Homo sapiens: one gene and its partner. The protein of the gene in region 1 purifies or fractionates together with the protein of each later gene. This does not show direct contact. Each region holds a gene or a part of one and is shown on either strand. Other genes may lie near its edges.

Region 1 (8,524 bases):
TTGTGATGGAGGAGGATACAGCAGTACATCCAAATGAAAACATCTAGCAGGCAGATGGGTCTGCTGACCTTGAGTTCAGGAGAAATGCTGGGCTGGCAAGACAAACTTGGAAGACATCCATGAAAAATACCAGTTAAAACATGGATAAATACCCTGAGGGAGTTCAGGAAGAAGAGGGGAGACCCTTAGGAAGTATGACCCTGGAAAATGAGGAAAGCAAGAGGAGTCAGAGAAGCTAAGAGAAGAATCAGGATTTGCAGAATCACGGGATTAAAAGTAGTTTTCTTTCAAGAGTGCCAAATCTGACAGATCAGGACAGAGAAAAGGACTTTGAAAGCAGCAGAGATAGGCACAGCAGACCTACAACAGAATAGCTGAGGAACCAAGGTATCCTTCTTCATAGTTTCTGTGGCCTAATCTAATGCAAGGCTAGTGGAAAAAGCTTGATAAATATTGACTACTTGAACCACACAATAGCTGCCACATCTTGGGCTGAATGACTTCTGCAAAGTGCCTGAGTCCCTTGCCATATTCCACTCCATGTTGAGTTTCTTAGCCTGTTCTAGAAGAGAAATTAGTAACCCTGGCTCTGAAGTAGTGGTAGGGAGAGCTCACAATCAAGAAGGAGCTGTTTCCTCAATCCTGCAGTCTTGGGCCTGAGGCTAACCTCTTGCCTGTCTTTGGGCCATCTAAGTGAGACGGAAATCCATGTCTGTTTTTAACAGCTCCAGAGGCAATTCCTCAACATCTCTTGGTAGTCTGTTCTATAGTCTCTGAAAACCCTTGCCAAGGTCAACTAGAAAATAGGCCCTTGTGACCCAGAGTTTCTAAAAAGCTCACTTGACAAATTGAGTAATGAGTCAATCAAGAGGAAAAATAAAGTCAGAGATCACCCTGCTTCTGGAAGGACCGAGTCATCTACAGCTAAAGGAGTGGATTGTAAAGGGGACACAGAGGCCAACATCCTGGAGAGTGCACAGCACAGCTCTAACTCAGGGAACTGAGGAGCTCTGTCATGCCCAAGAACATCAGAAGCTTGAAGTACAAAGGATCATTTGTTCTGTGCCCTGAGAATGAACTCCAATGAAGTTATTCACAAGGAATGATTGTTGTCAAGGTCTTGTCATTGGAGCTTTCCCATTTTCGTGGTGTCTAGAACTGATAACCCTTGAGATCATGTATAGTGCTCGAAGACAAAGGGCATCACTTAACATCAAGGAGCCACATTAAGAAAAGAGTGGGGGGACAAAGAGGTACAGTGCAGAAAGAATTAGAATAAAAACATATGCTTGCTGCAGGTATTGAGACAGAGCTTATAGGGAAGCTTATAGGGAATGTCAAGGGTCCATGTCTGTGAATCATGTTACATTTTATTGGCATTCTACTAAATATGATGTATGGGAAATGTTGTATTGGATTTTTAAGAATACTTTTAGTCATTCAAATGTTTATTGAGCAGCACCTAGGTGCCACGCACTAGGCTGGGCAACAGGGCACGATGGTGCATTCTCTTGAGGAGTGAACAGCTTATTGGGAGAGACAAGTGTGAGCAAGGAACTGTGAAACAGCTTTAAAGGTGTTAATAGAAGCAAGGGACTTACCATGAGGAGACAGAAAGAGAAACTTAGAAGAGCAGCACAGAGAAACTGTTGCAAATTCTGGGGATTTCATTTGAGCTACAGATAGCCCTGCATTGGCATTTGCAGACTGAATATGCATGAATGATAAAAACCCCCAGTGAGTAATCCAAAAGGTCCCTGTCATGAGGTAATTTGCTGAGACACAAATTTGAATGGGGCTGCCAGGAGGCCAGAGTGTACTTGCCAGCCACTCAGCTAGTGAATGACCACTCCTAACACTGGCATTTGTGTCCCAGTACCACTTAGCTCTCCTTACTTTCTCATCGACATCCGCACAATAATTCTCATACTGTGATCAATTTTTTCTTCACAGAGTCAGGGAAATAGGGCGTTAATAAGGTAAAGATATAAGGTAATGAAGTAAGAAGTTTATTTTAATGGCAAAATTTATTTAAGTAGCTTTAGAAATTACTTTGGCCCCATATTCATAGAACCATTAAGAGTCTAAAAAGATTCTTTACATTTTTCAGCTACACTTTACCGTACTTTATGGTGGAAATTATATGCCATGATGACATTCATGATTTTGGAGACTCACCAAGGTCATGGATGAACCCTCTGAGAATGTCAAGGGTCCAAGTCCATGAATAATGTTACATTTTATTGGCTTTACTAAATATAACAAAATCTTATTTTAAGTTTGAAAAATAAGATATTCTTCCTTATGTGATTTCCCTATATTTTGGGAAAGGCTGCCATTCCCCTCCCCGTTTATGAAGGTTTAACATGTGTCACCAGAAGACAAAGGAGTTATTTATCCACAAAACTGCAGCCTGACAAGCAACTCAAATTAAGAAACATAACTACATTCCCCAATGAAATGCTTTCCTTTTGGTCTATTGCCTGGAACCTAATAACCACTGAAACTCAAACTCTGACCCCACCCTGCCCCCCAAATACCTCCAAGAACCTCGAACTTAACATGACATCACCCACAGTCCCAAGCTGCTTCCCCTTCTATCACCTTGTTCAGTTACCAAGTAAATACATTTACCTCCTAAGTGATTCTTAAATGCAAATGCAGCCAGGCCTCTCCAGCCCCACAGCACTGCCCCAAGCTAGCCGAGGGTCAAAGTATCTGTCATCACAATATTCTGAAACGCTGCCTCCTCTATTCTCTATATGGATGCAGAGTAATTTTTCTCAAAATGCATGGCTTGCCTTCATTGGCTTCCACTGAAGTTTAAGATAAGGTCCTATCAAGAGAAGACACTGGGCCCTACTAGAGGGTGAAGGGTAGGAGGAGGCAGAGGATAAAAAAAAAATACCTATTGGGTACTATCCTCATTACCAGGGTGATAAAATAATCTGTCCAACAAACCCCTATGACATGCAATTTACCTATATAACAAACCTGCACCTGTACCTCTGAACCTAAAAGTTAAAAAAATTATTCACCAAACCCAGTGATCAAGGTTAATAACACCAGTAAAAAGTCATATTGCTATCATGTACCCCTGACATAATGCAATGAGAAGGCACTTCATCTTCATGGTATTCATCCCCCAAATCCAAAACCCTGGTCTAATCATGAGGAAACATCAGATAAATGCAAATGAGGAACAATTCTACAGAATATCTGACCAGTCCTCTTTAAAAATGTCAAGGTCATGAAAAACAGAGAAAGACTGAGAAGCTGTCACAGATTGAGAAGAATAAGGAGATGTAATGACTAAATGCAACATCATATCTTGGATTAGATTCTAGAGAAAAAAAGACATTAGTGGAAAAACTAGTAAAATCAAAATAAAGTCTGTAGTCTTAATTTTAAAAAGAAAAAAGATATGGTCTATCAACAACCAATTGATTCTTGGACAGTGATTCTGATGCCCATGGTCGACACATAACACCTTGAGAAATGCCTTGACTGTGAGTTGTTTCTCCCCCTCAGTACAGGATGAGTTCTTTCATATCTCTATGCATTTTGCATTTGCCAAATGCTGGTCCTGTACTACTCATTCACCTTTCTCTTTTCAGTGAGACTCTACAGTCTGTCAGTATTCAATTTAAATGTCACTACTTGAGCAAAGTCACACGTAAATCTCTCAGTGGCCAGAGAGCCACTGAGTGGCTCTCTGACCACTGAGGGATTTACATGTGGCCAGAGATTTACATGTCTGGCCTTCCACGGCACTGGATACACAACCCCACTAAAGCAGGTGTCACAGTTTACTATAATAACTTGTTAACAGGTTTATTTTCTCCAGTGATCCATGTGCTCTTTTTCAACTTTGAATCCCTAGTACCTAGCACTATGTTTGGCTCCTGCCAGGCAGGCAGTCAGCCTTTGCTGAATGAAAGGACCAGTGATTGAGGTCTGTGGCTACACGGTAAAATGAGAGAGACGAGTCATCAAAGGGAAAAACTGCTTTTTTGTTAACTATAAAGTGAACCAAGGTGTCAGAACAGTTAAAACAAGGATGAAGAGTGCTTTTAGATCTCAATCAATTTTTAAATTACTCGTCACACCTGTCCTAGCTAAAGACTAACTCTAGCACCTCCTGCGGCCTGTTAGTCAGTATTTCACACTTGGGCAGCAGATCCAGCAAATGTTCAATGATCGCAGAAGAAATACTTAGAAGCTATTGGCTTTGAAAATAAAAATGTAAGAAGATGCCTAGTAAAAGCATCTGCTAAATATTCTTCCTGTTTGGCACATTAGACTGCAGTATCAGACACATGACCGTGGTCATACTGTACACAATGCCCAATGTCTGCCAAAACTCTGGCATATGAGAGACTTAGTGCTGGAGTACGGAGGGATTCTTCCGGTATCCCCACTACACACAGTGGTGGAAAGAAGAGCTTCCAGAACAAACCCAGTCAGGCAAAGAGGCAAATACACTGCATTTAGTAACGCTGCTGGAGCCCGCCCTTCACCCTTTCTGAAGGTAGGATACTAAAAGGGCTCAAGCCTAAATCTAATCCAACAAGCTATATTCTGAATAACGACCAATCTCTGATAAAGCTGTTCCCCTAACCCTTCTGCTGCCCGAAACACTCACTCTACAGCCCCTACTGGGCTACCGGGTTCCCCACTGGACTCTGGACAGCGCCGCGCCCTGCTCGGCCTCACCCACCCGGTGGCGCTTGGGCCCGCCCTAGTCCCCCACCCCCACCCCAGGGCACCACCTACCAGGGCCCCGCCCCGCCTCAGCCCCACGTGCGGGGCCCCACCCCGGCGCTAGCGGCCCTTTAAACACCCCCACCCTTACACATTACCCCCCCCCCACCCGGACGGCAGCCGAATAGGGACAAAACTCATGGCGTACAGCCAGTTTCCTCCGCGGAGCACGTCCTGTGCTGCTCCAGCCGTTGGGGCTCTCCACCCCGGGCCACAGCCTCCTGGCGCCCCCCGGGCCGAGGCAGCCGGGCCGAGGAGTGTCGGTGTGGTCCGGCTACGGGGCGGGGCCGGCGGGAGCTCCGGTCGCCGCCGCCGCCGCTGCTGCCTCCGCCTGCCTCTTGGGCCGCCCGCTCGCCCGCCGCTGGGTGCGCTGCACGCGGGGGGCAGCCGTGGTGCAGAGGTTCATGCAGCGGCGGCGGCGGCGGCGGCTGCTGCTGCTGCCGCCGCGGAGGCAGACAGACCGGGCGCTGCCACCGCCGCCCTCCCCCGGCTCCATGCCGCCGCCGCTGCCGCCTCCTCCTCTCCGGCGAGGGGCGGGGGGCTCCGGCCCGGGGTGGGCACCATTCCTCGCAGCGCCGCTCCCCTCCCTGCCCTCCGCCCGGGCGCTGGAGCCGGCGAGGGCACCCGCCGCCTCCTAGGAGTGCACCCTCCGCGCGCCCTGCCGGAGCGAGGGGGCGGGCGTGGGCGGACGTCGGGGCAGCGGGGACCCCGCGCGGCTGCAAGAGGAGGGGGCTTCCCCAAGGATGCCCGGCGGCTCCCCGCTCCTAGGTGCGAGCTGAGTCTGACCGGGAGCGAGCGGCGCGTCGCCATGCCGGCGTGACGGGCGCCCCCGGCTGCCCGCGCGGGCCCCCGCGCTGCCCCACGCCGCGCCGTGCCGGCACCGGGCTGCAGGATGGGCTGTATCCAAAGCATCACCTGCAAGGCGCGGATCCGGCGCGAGAACATCGTGGTGTACGATGTGTGCGCCACCATCGACCAGTGCCCCACGCGCATCGAGGAGACCTCGCCCATCGTCCTGCGCTACAAGACCCCCTACTTCAAAGCCTCCGCCCGCGTGGTCATGCCCCCCATCCCCCGCCACGAGACCTGGGTGGTGGGCTGGATTCAGGCGTGCAATCAGATGGAGTTCTTCAACACCTACAGCGACCTGGGCATGTAAGCGACTCGCCGCGCGGCACGGGAGCGGACTCTGGGCCCCCAGCTCTGCTTGCCACCTTGACCCCCCTCCCCAGCTCCTTCCTACTGCTGTCCCCATCGTCTTTCTAAACCTTCCTCCCGCCTCCTCTCCCACCTCCCTCCTCCCTACGCTTTTGTTTCAGTGACAGGGCGGGTGTAGGGAGGCTCCTTGCGAAGGCATTTTCTCGTGGTTTGCTTCTGACTTCCCAGAAACGCGAGGAGAAAGGTGCGGGGCGGGAAGAACGCGACAAGGAGGGTTCGAGAGGCGGAGGTGGGGATGGCTGGCGAGTGCCTGGCGAGTTTCAGGGCGCCGTCTGTGCTTTGTGGGGCTCCCCGGGAAGAGTTTGGGGGAAACCATAGAGGAGTGGAGTGGAGTGCCGGGGGCGCATGGGCTGTGCCGCGCGTCCTTTGGAGAAACCGGAGCGGGCTTGGAAGAGCAGGTCCCGGGCATCCGAGCGGGAGTTGGTAGTTCTGTCCTTGCCCTCGCGACTGTTGAAGTTTCGAACCCTTGTCCCCCGGGCCAGGGAGCCCGGAGGCGTTTCCGTCTGGAACCACAAGCCGGACACAGTTGCCTCTCTGTTTCCGCGCCCCCTGGACCAGTTCTGGTGGGGAGCTGGAAGGCACCGAGTGCGTCCCGGCCAAGAAGGGCGGATAGCCTTGTGCGAGCAGCGTTCGGCTGGCGCGGCGCGGGGTGTTTCTTATGCTAAAGGAAAGGATGGATCTCTTGTCTGTCTAGGGTCCTTACTTTTTAAAACTTTCCTAATTGCGGCACTGGAAGGGATTCCCCTGGCGCCCACCGCCGAATTCTATCGGCGAGCTGGGAGCTCTCCAACTTTCAGCAGCGCCGGTTGGTGCGCGCCGGGCTTGGCTGCTGCGGTGAAGACCAAGGATCGCCGCGGCTCCTCAACCGCCAGGGGCCGCAGGCTACGGGCGGTCGCGTCCGGGACTTTTATATTTACCAAATTTTCATAACTCCGCACCCGCCTCCTTTCAGAACTAGACTCTGAGCAGGTGGCAACGACAATAGCTAAAAGGTTTAGGGCCTGCCTTCTACCTGCTGTTACAATGTAGGTCTAGAACACCCTAATTAGCCAGTCTGCAGCCTACAGGGAAACCCTTTTTCTGGAAATTCAACCTCATTTCACTTATTAATCTAAAACTCTAGAGCTCCCAAGGTTCGTCTATTTAATATGGATATGGGGTGGGGGAGTTCCCATTTTAAAAGGTCAAACCATCTTTTTAGCAGCAGTTTGCAGGCTTTTTATTGCACTCTGAGAGCATGTCAGTTAACACTAGTCATAGGCGCTAAAAGAAATTTGACAGGTCGTTGTTTTCCTTTTTTCCTCCCAAAGATTTTGCACTTTTCTCTTTAAGCACAAAAGCTTAATCCTTGAGAAAACTCAATTCCTAGTGAAGAAATGTGAGGCCCAGTTTCCAATATGCCTCAGCACACTGTATTCTTCCAGAGAAGACAGCTAGATGTGAGAAATGGGGGATATTTTATTTGGGGCGAATCATGCCATTTAAAAACTGACATACCCTCAAAAGAATGATTATATGTGAACACATGTGTCTCTTAAAACTGCTTTTTAAAATAAATCCATTGTTTCCAGCCAAGTCAGAGAAAGCCACAGGCAGGGCAAGAGCCCTTCCTCTCATTTCCCTGGCCTCACCCTGATGGCAGTGGGTTGCTGGAGGACAGCAAGTGCTCCCCACAGCAGCCTGGGGCCCCTGGTAGAGGAAGCCAGGAGTGACTGTGCAGAAGCAGCCTCACTTTTCCCAAGACTGCACAGCGGAACTCTCTGTTGCCTCAAATCTCTTATGAATAAGTAAAAGCAAATATATAAATACAGAATTATTTCCGTAAAACTTACTTTACCTTAGGAGAAGTCAAGTTGAGATATAAACAGACATGGTAGTTGAACTTCCTGGAATCTATAGGGAAGGTATGTCCTCACTGGAACCAACTTTAATGGATATGAATCAGTGACAGGATTCCTGACCCTTCCCCACTGAATCCTTGCATTTGGGATTTGGAAAGTGGTTTTGTTTTTAAACTGCCACTTTTGATATTTTAAGATTCTTGGTTTTCATGTAGATGTAGGAGAGCAAAAATAGACCCCCAATAAATCATAAAGCATATTATTATAGATTTGTGTCCACAGTCTACCTGTTTCTTCATGGTTGCAATAATTGCTATGTGTTAAAGGCCACTTTGGAGCCCAAATTTGAATGAACCAATTTCCACAAGATATTTATGCCTGGAAAATTTTGCTAGTGTAAACTTTTTAATGGGAATTCATATTGCATGAAAGTTGCTGCAGTCTATTAGTTATTATGTCTACTTTAGCCAATATCTGGATTGTAAAAAATAGCATGGAGTGATTTTTCACCTCTGTGCAGTGTTCTGTCACATGAACCACAATATGGTGAAAGGGTTTGGATTAGAAAACTGCCTTTTCAATATTTTGAAAAGGATTGTGCCAGAGGAAATCCACAACATAAAATGGCAAGAAACTCCTGTTTACAGGATTGAAAGAAAGCCTGAGGTTTTGTGGTTTAAATTGTAAACTTTTCCAAGAAG
Region 2 (7,522 bases), on another chromosome or scaffold:
TATGAGAAACACTGAAGGAACTGATGGTATTTAGCTGCCTTCAAGATGAATCGATTTGTTTAATCAGTCAGCAGCTATTTATTGAATACTTCTGGATGTGTTTTTGGATGTCTGTACTGTTAGGCGCTTGGGATACAGAAATGAAAAACATTCCCTGTTCTCAAGAAAATTGTAGACGAGTAGGGAGATAACACAAGTAAATAATGATTAGAATATAATGTGATTGATTCCCTAATAAAGAAAAGCACAAAGCATTATTGGAACAGAGGGGCAGGGAAATTGGCAAGGCCAGAAGACTTCTCACAGGAGGTAAATCTTTGAGTTTGAATTTGTTTATGTTCCCAAGGGATAGAAAGAACTAGGACCAATGGTTAGTTATGATGGGAGACAGATTTTTGACTCAATGTGAAGACCTCATTAAATAAAAGCTTTCTAAAGATTAGTTTTGTAAAGAAACAAGGTTTCTTTTACTGGAGATATAAAAAAATGTAGACTTGCTGACGACTTTATGGAGGGATTTAAGCATTAGGGGATAGATGGGCTACGTGACTGTGACACCTTACAACCTTCAGAGTTTGTCATTCTGATTCTTAGCTACAGTTTCCCAGAAATGAATATTCTCCCATGTTTGAAGAGGAGAACACATTTGCACTATTATAATAAATACATTATTTGGATGTAAATTTAAAATAATGGCAATAAAATTAAATATACAGTGTATATAAAATACATTTATAACTATAAATAAATTAACCAGAGATAATAAATAAGTGATTTATTTACTTCGATCCTAGTACCTTCTTTAGAACTTTTACTTCTTTTTTCAGGCTGATAAGAATGGACCTAGTTTTCAAACTGCTTTTGGAAAAACTGAACAAACAGTTAAGGTAAGAAATTCTGTTAAAGGAATTTATCCTGTTTGAAAATAACCTAGTCTCAAAGCCTCTAGTATCCTTTGAGGAGTATTGACTAGGTAATTTGATGACATAATCAAGGACCAATAAGAGTTATAAATAACCTCATCGATACTTACCATGCTCTGTGTTTATGATTCAGCTTAGTAAAGCTGTTTTGTTATATCACATCCTAGCGTCCTTAAAAGTTTCAGTATTATTTCTAAATTAGGGAATGCTGTAGACAAAAGAACTTTGATGTACAAAGAACTAAAAGGTTTCTAAACTAGCCAAACTAGATACCATTGTTTGATGTACAGGTGAAAAAGTGTATAAAATATAAGGAGACATGTTGAGCACTTTTGAAGTCAAAGCACTACTTACGTAGTAGCTTAGAGTAAGAGGGGCAAAATGTACTTATGGGTAACTAAAAAGAAAAGGAGAGAGGCGAGTTTTAGCTCACACTTTTTTGAGAGATGGGGAAATCTGTTTTAATATTGTGAACCTTTTATTGTTTTTATATCCATTTAGTGTTATGAGAAAATGAAAAGAAATTCATTTTTATAAACAGAGCTTTTTATTTTATATTAATTTGCTATTAGAAAACTACCCATTCTTGAAATCAATTTGTATTGCTATTTTAGCTTCCTAGAGTGATTGCTTTAAAAAAAGTAGTACTTTTCCCCTACAAGTTCTATATTGTGTTTCTTTTTAAATGATAACACCATTATTGTGATTTGAAAAGGTCACTTAGTAACCCATTCATAATTGTCCTTTTTATATTTAAATTTCACGGATGCCACCTTTGAAGTCATTTCTAGACATAGTAGTAGCACATGGTGGTTCTGGGATTTCGCCTTTTGACTTATAATTTTATATAATCATAATTGTCCATTGAAGATCCAAGAAGCCGTCTGTATGTTGAATATCAGCATAGCCATGAGAAGCAGAGTATAGACTTCATAACCATTATGCTTTGGAAATGGAGTAATTAGGTTACTGTAATATTCTGATGTACCCCTGAAGTGTATAAGTGTAATTTTTCTCTGTATATTCCCTTTTTAAGGGGATTGTGAATCTTCCACTTTTTACTCTTCCTTCAGAGTGGTGGAAAGCAATGATGTAAGCCCACCTGAGAATCTTTTGGGTCTGTCGTGGAGACTACAGGTTATAATTGGCTGTGGAAAACTAATTTTCTCTTTAAAACATTTTTAGGTGGCCTTTTCATCTTTAAATCTGTTGCTGCAAACACAAGCTCTTGTCGCTTCTATTAATTACCTCACAACCATTATTCCATCTGATGATCAAAGCATAAGTGTTGCTAAGGAGGTACAAATTTCAACTGAAAAACAACAAAAAAATTCAACTCTGCCAAAAGGTATGAAACATACATTTTTGTTTTTTGTTAGCAAGGGTTTTAGAATTCTAAAGCTAAATGAGGAATACTAGAGACTATCTGACTCAGTCATTTAAATACCATTTTCCCCTTTTCTTCAAATTAAATTATATGCGAGCACCTGATGTATAAGGCAAATGTAATCAATACTGTTGTTTTTAAAAATGTTTCTTTTAGTTCTTATTTTGGTGGTGGTGTAGGAAGCCCTTAGGTAGGTAATAGGGGGAGAAGATCTGTATTTATACTGAGCTCTTCCTCCCCGCTCAGTGGCTCCTGAAGGGGCTTTATAAAGAGTTAGTCTTTCTTTCCATTTTACACATAAGGAAATTAAGGCTCAGAGACACAAAGGTAGGGAAGGGTTCAGGAGTAGCATCTAATTGGCCAAGAGCCCAGATTTTGGATCAGGAAGAACTCAGTTCACATCCTGATTTTGCTACTTCAACCATGTAACCTTAGACACATTATTTAACTTTTCTGAGGTTCAGTGTCCTTATTTATTTATTGTAGTTTTTTCTCTTGCTTTTAAATTATAAAAGTAATATCTCACTATTAAAAATGCAAACTTTACAGAATATATAAAGCAAAAAAAGTGTTTGAATCTTTAAGAGTTGGAGAATGTTATAATTTTTTTTAACATAACAGTGGTTCACTTAATATAGCGAATAAACCTTAAAAGAATGTAGATGACTAGAATCTCACCATGTGACAGATGCTTTGTTTTATTTTTAGCGATTGTATCCTCCAGAGATAGTGACATTATTGATTTCAGGCTATTTGCCAAGTTGAATGCTTTCTGTGTCATTGTTTGCAACGAAAAGAACAATATCGCCGAAATCAAGATTCAAGGTAAAAGTTCACACGGCATTGAAAATTGGCGAAAAGATAAACTTTTCCTTCTTTTTGTCTCTTTGCAATGCTAAAGAATGTACAAATAAAGGGCTCTAAGCTGTGAAACCTGAAAAGACGTAATTGGATTGTATGCTTCCTCTATTTGGGATATAGATATTGGTCAGAATCTGACCATCCCAATTGACCTCTACACATATCCTGGTGTTTGGGACCTTCCTGAGAGTTATCTAGGAAGTGGAAAAGGGATACTGATGTCAATGTAGGAATGCTATTGATGGGCTAGGAGAAGTGTCAGTCTAGATTTTAGGTGAAGGTCTGTGGACGTGCTTTCTAGTAACTTTTTAATCTTTTTTTTTTACCTTCATATGATTTTTATATATAATTATGTATTTGTCTTTATTTGTCTTTCCTTATGAAAAGCAATCTTATAATGGTGACAATATCTATGAGCCCATTATGTTCTTTTAGGTAAAAGCTGCCAAAACTCATCTAGCTTTTCCTCTGGCTTACTTTTACTAGCTTGTTGTGACCTGGTAGAGGTCAAGAATATGTTGAATATGTTTAATGAAATTTTTTAAGAACTTAAAAACTAGAAAACTAGGGGCTTTTTTCCTTTGTCCTTTCCAAACTGGCAGCGCATCTACTAGTCTGAATTTGATTTGTGAAACTTTTATAGTTTCCATGTAAATGACTGGATATAAGGTATAAAGGATAATTTACTTAAATCCTGAGATAATCTATTTGTACTAGATGTATTTCTTCCCCTGATTGAAAAGTCACATAATCATTGTTTAATGAATTTATAGGTTTTGGTGTTTATAAAACCAAAAAACTCTAATATTGCAACTTATTTATCCATTGGGAGTTGAAACATTGCTAAATTTAAAAAAGTCACCCCAAAATAAAATAATGTAATGGAAAGAAAGATCTTATTTATGGTAGGTCTGTAGAAATTATAATAATACACTCTTTTTTTCAGGACTGGATTCCTCCCTTTCTCTCCAGTCAAGAAAGCAGTCACTTTTTGCCCGACTAGAAAATATTATTGTCACAGATGTTGATCCAAAGACAGTTCATAAGAAAGTAGGTGATTGTAAACAGATAGTTAATATTCTTTAATGACTGAATATGAGCTTCTATTGTAAAATGTATTTTATTTTAAAAACATTAATGAAATATATTTCAATAGAAAAATTTTTTTATAAAGATTATAAATGTAAAGCCTTTTGTAAATGAGATTTTATTTTGTCATTACCTTCCCGGATAGAGTACATTCAAGTCTCTGTTTTTCAGGCTGTGTCAATAATGGGAAATGAAGTTTTCCGTTTTAATTTGGATTTGTATCCAGATGCTACTGAGGGGGATTTGTATACTGACATGTCCAAAGTGGATGGTGTGCTGTCTCTGAATGTTGGCTGTATTCAGATTGTCTATCTTCATAAATTCCTTATGTCACTTCTGGTAAAATAATTATTTGTATATTGATTTTTCAACTTTGAAATATTTTAAAAGTGTGATAATTATGATGGCAAATGTTATAAACCTTGGATTTTAGAGTGGGCATTATTTTAATTATATTTATGCGTGAATGTAGAGATCAAAACCCCTATTTAACAGTTGAAAAGTGAATCATTTAATGATTTTTGTCTAGAACAAATTATTTTTGCTACAATATAATGAAGCCAGATTCTTTAGTATAAAAATTATTGGAAAAAAATTTTTCTCTGTTCCTTAACCATATAACATTAGCTCAGTTCAGGCAGCTCATAGTTATAGATGGATTATCCGTAATTTCTTAATACTGCTAGAAAAATAGGGCTCAATGGAAAGTTAAATATTGGAAAAAAAAAGTTACCACATGTATGAAAAGAAGATAGTGTTATTATTGATGTGCCTGTATTCTCTTTGAATTTCTCTTTTTATGCTTTGTGTCCACAGAACTTCCTGAATAATTTCCAGACAGCCAAAGAGTCTCTGAGTGCTGCCACTGCCCAGGCTGCAGAAAGGGCTGCCACAAGTGTGAAAGATCTTGCCCAGAGGAGTTTTCGTGTTTCCATCAATATTGATTTGAAAGCACCGGTTATAGTCATCCCACAGTCTTCTATTTCCACCAATGCAGTAGTGGTAGATCTTGGGTTAATCAGAGTTCATAATCAGTTCAGTCTGGTGTCTGATGAAGACTACTTAAATCCTCCAGTAATTGATAGAATGGATGTGCAGCTAACAAAGCTTACACTTTATAGGTATGCTCTTTCAATAATTATGGATTTAAATATTATATTCATGATTTCCATGAAATTTTATGACTTGAAATTCCTACCCAACACAGTTTATTCAAATAAACTGTTCCATTACACGGAACAGTTTTTTTTATTGTTGTCATTGTTTTGTGTGTGTGTGTGTGTGTGTGTGTGTGTGTGTGTGTGTGTGTGTGTGTTTTGAGTTGGAGTCTTGGTCTGTCACCCAGGATGGAGTGCAGTGGCGTGATCTCGGCTCACTGCAACCTCTGCCTCCTGGGTTCAAGCAATCCTCCTGCCTCAGCCTCCCGAGTAGCTGGGACTATAGACATGTGCTACCATGCCTGGCTAATTTTTTTTGTATTTTTAATAGAAATGGGGTTTCACCATGTTGGCCAGGCTGGTCTCAAACTCCTCACCTCAGGTGATCCACCTGCTTTGGACCCCCAAAGTGCTGGGATTACAGGTGTGAGCCACCGCGCCTGGCCCAGAAGAGTTTTTTATTTTGTGTTTTGAGATGAAGTCTTGCTCTGTCGCCCAGGCTGGAGTGCAATGGTGCAGTCTTGGCTCACTGCAACTTCTGCATCCTGGATTCAAGTGATTCTCCTGCCTCAGCCTCCTGAGTAACTGGGACTATAGGCACGTGCCATCATGCCTGGCTAATTTTTTTGTATTTTTCGTTATAGAGATGGGGTTTCACCATGTTGGCCAGGCTAGTCTCAAACTCCTGATATCAGGTGTTCTGCCCATCTTGGCCTCCCAAAGTGCTGAGATTACAGGCATGAGCCATCGCACCAGGCCACCAGAACAGTTTTTTAATCAACTTTTGTTTTAAAAAATTTCAGACCTACAGAAAAATGGAAAAAAATAGTACTGTGAATGCACCTACATATCCTTCATCTAGATTCACCAGTTGTTTATATTTGCTTTAACCTATCTATAAACATATACATATTATTTAAAACATTTTTTGCTAAATCATTTGAGAATAGACATCTTTAACTTTTTGTCCCTAAATACTTTATCATATGTCTCCTATAAACAAGGACATTCATTCTCTTATATTAACTATGATATAATTCTAGAAATTTAATATCGATGTAATACTATAATCTGAAATTCAGTCAATATTCAGATTTTACCAGTTGTCCCATTATAATAATTCGCATTATAGGAATGTCCATTATAAAAATTTCTCCCTGATTCAGGATCACCCATAGCGTATAATTGTATTCTGTACTATTGAGGAAGATTTCTGTACTGACAGAAATTTATTTTGGAGTAGTTCTTCAGCTTTTCTTTGTCTTTTTATGACTACATGACTACTACTGTAGTTTTGAAGACTACAGTCCGGTTCCACTCACCTCTCAATTTGGTTGTGTCTGAGTGATTCCTCATGGTTTGATTGAACTTACACATTTTTGGCAGGCATGTTGTGTAAATTATTTTGTATCTTCAGTGCTCATACCAGGTGGCACATGAAATCTGTACATAATTCATTTTAAAATTATTTTCTACCCCATCCATGAAGATTTAATTATGTAGAATAAAAAATTAATGACTACAAGGCAAGTCTAGAAAATAATCCTAGAGAAAACCTTTATGAAATGCCTTGGAAAATGCTAACTCCTCTTGTTCACTTTGCCATCATTTTCTTCAGTCTCTGCACCAACATACCTATTAATCCTTGAACAACTGTATATGATGATTTTCTGTATTTCTTCAATGGTGTGGATTGCTTTTAAAAACTTATTCAATTTTTCACCTATCTACTGTTTAAAGAAAAAAGTTTTCTTAATGGTTCATTGTATATCACCTTTTAATTTGTCCCTTCTAGTGGATTATAGATTAATTATAGGTTCAGTTTTGAAAATACTCAAGCCACACTGTTTCAGATCAGTATTTAGAGCAGCAAATAACTGCTTGACTTTGCTTTTTTTTAATATGTTGCATTTCTACCCTATATCTATGCATTATGTAACATTTCTGTTTTTCGTAGGACAGTGATCCAGCCAGGCATCTACCATCCTGATATTCAGCTGTTGCACCCAATTAACTTGGAATTTCTTGTAAATCGGAATCTAGCTGCATCTTGGTACCACAAGGTGCCTGTTGTGGAAATTAAAGGACATCTTGATTCAATGAAT

Evidence for each region.
Region 2: the proteins of FAM78B (region 1) and VPS13C purify together in Homo sapiens (affinity purification with mass spectrometry; 2 studies listed by BioGRID and IntAct, with this or other methods). This does not show direct contact.

What each region holds. Positions count from the first base shown.
Region 1 is NC_000001.11:166,163,381-166,171,904, reverse strand, and holds the start of FAM78B (protein FAM78B), read left to right. Parts: upstream 1-4,903; 5' UTR 4,904-5,656; coding exon 5,657-5,919; exon of another isoform or gene 5,920-6,028; intron 6,029-8,524.
Region 2 is NC_000015.10:61,959,448-61,966,969, reverse strand, and holds part of VPS13C (intermembrane lipid transfer protein VPS13C), read left to right. Parts: intron 1-827; coding exon 828-887; intron 888-2,108; coding exon 2,109-2,271; intron 2,272-3,018; coding exon 3,019-3,135; intron 3,136-4,117; coding exon 4,118-4,221; intron 4,222-4,431; coding exon 4,432-4,599; intron 4,600-5,076; coding exon 5,077-5,381; intron 5,382-7,374; coding exon 7,375-7,522. UniProt on the Homo sapiens protein: Mediates the transfer of lipids between membranes at organelle contact sites. Necessary for proper mitochondrial function and maintenance of mitochondrial transmembrane potential.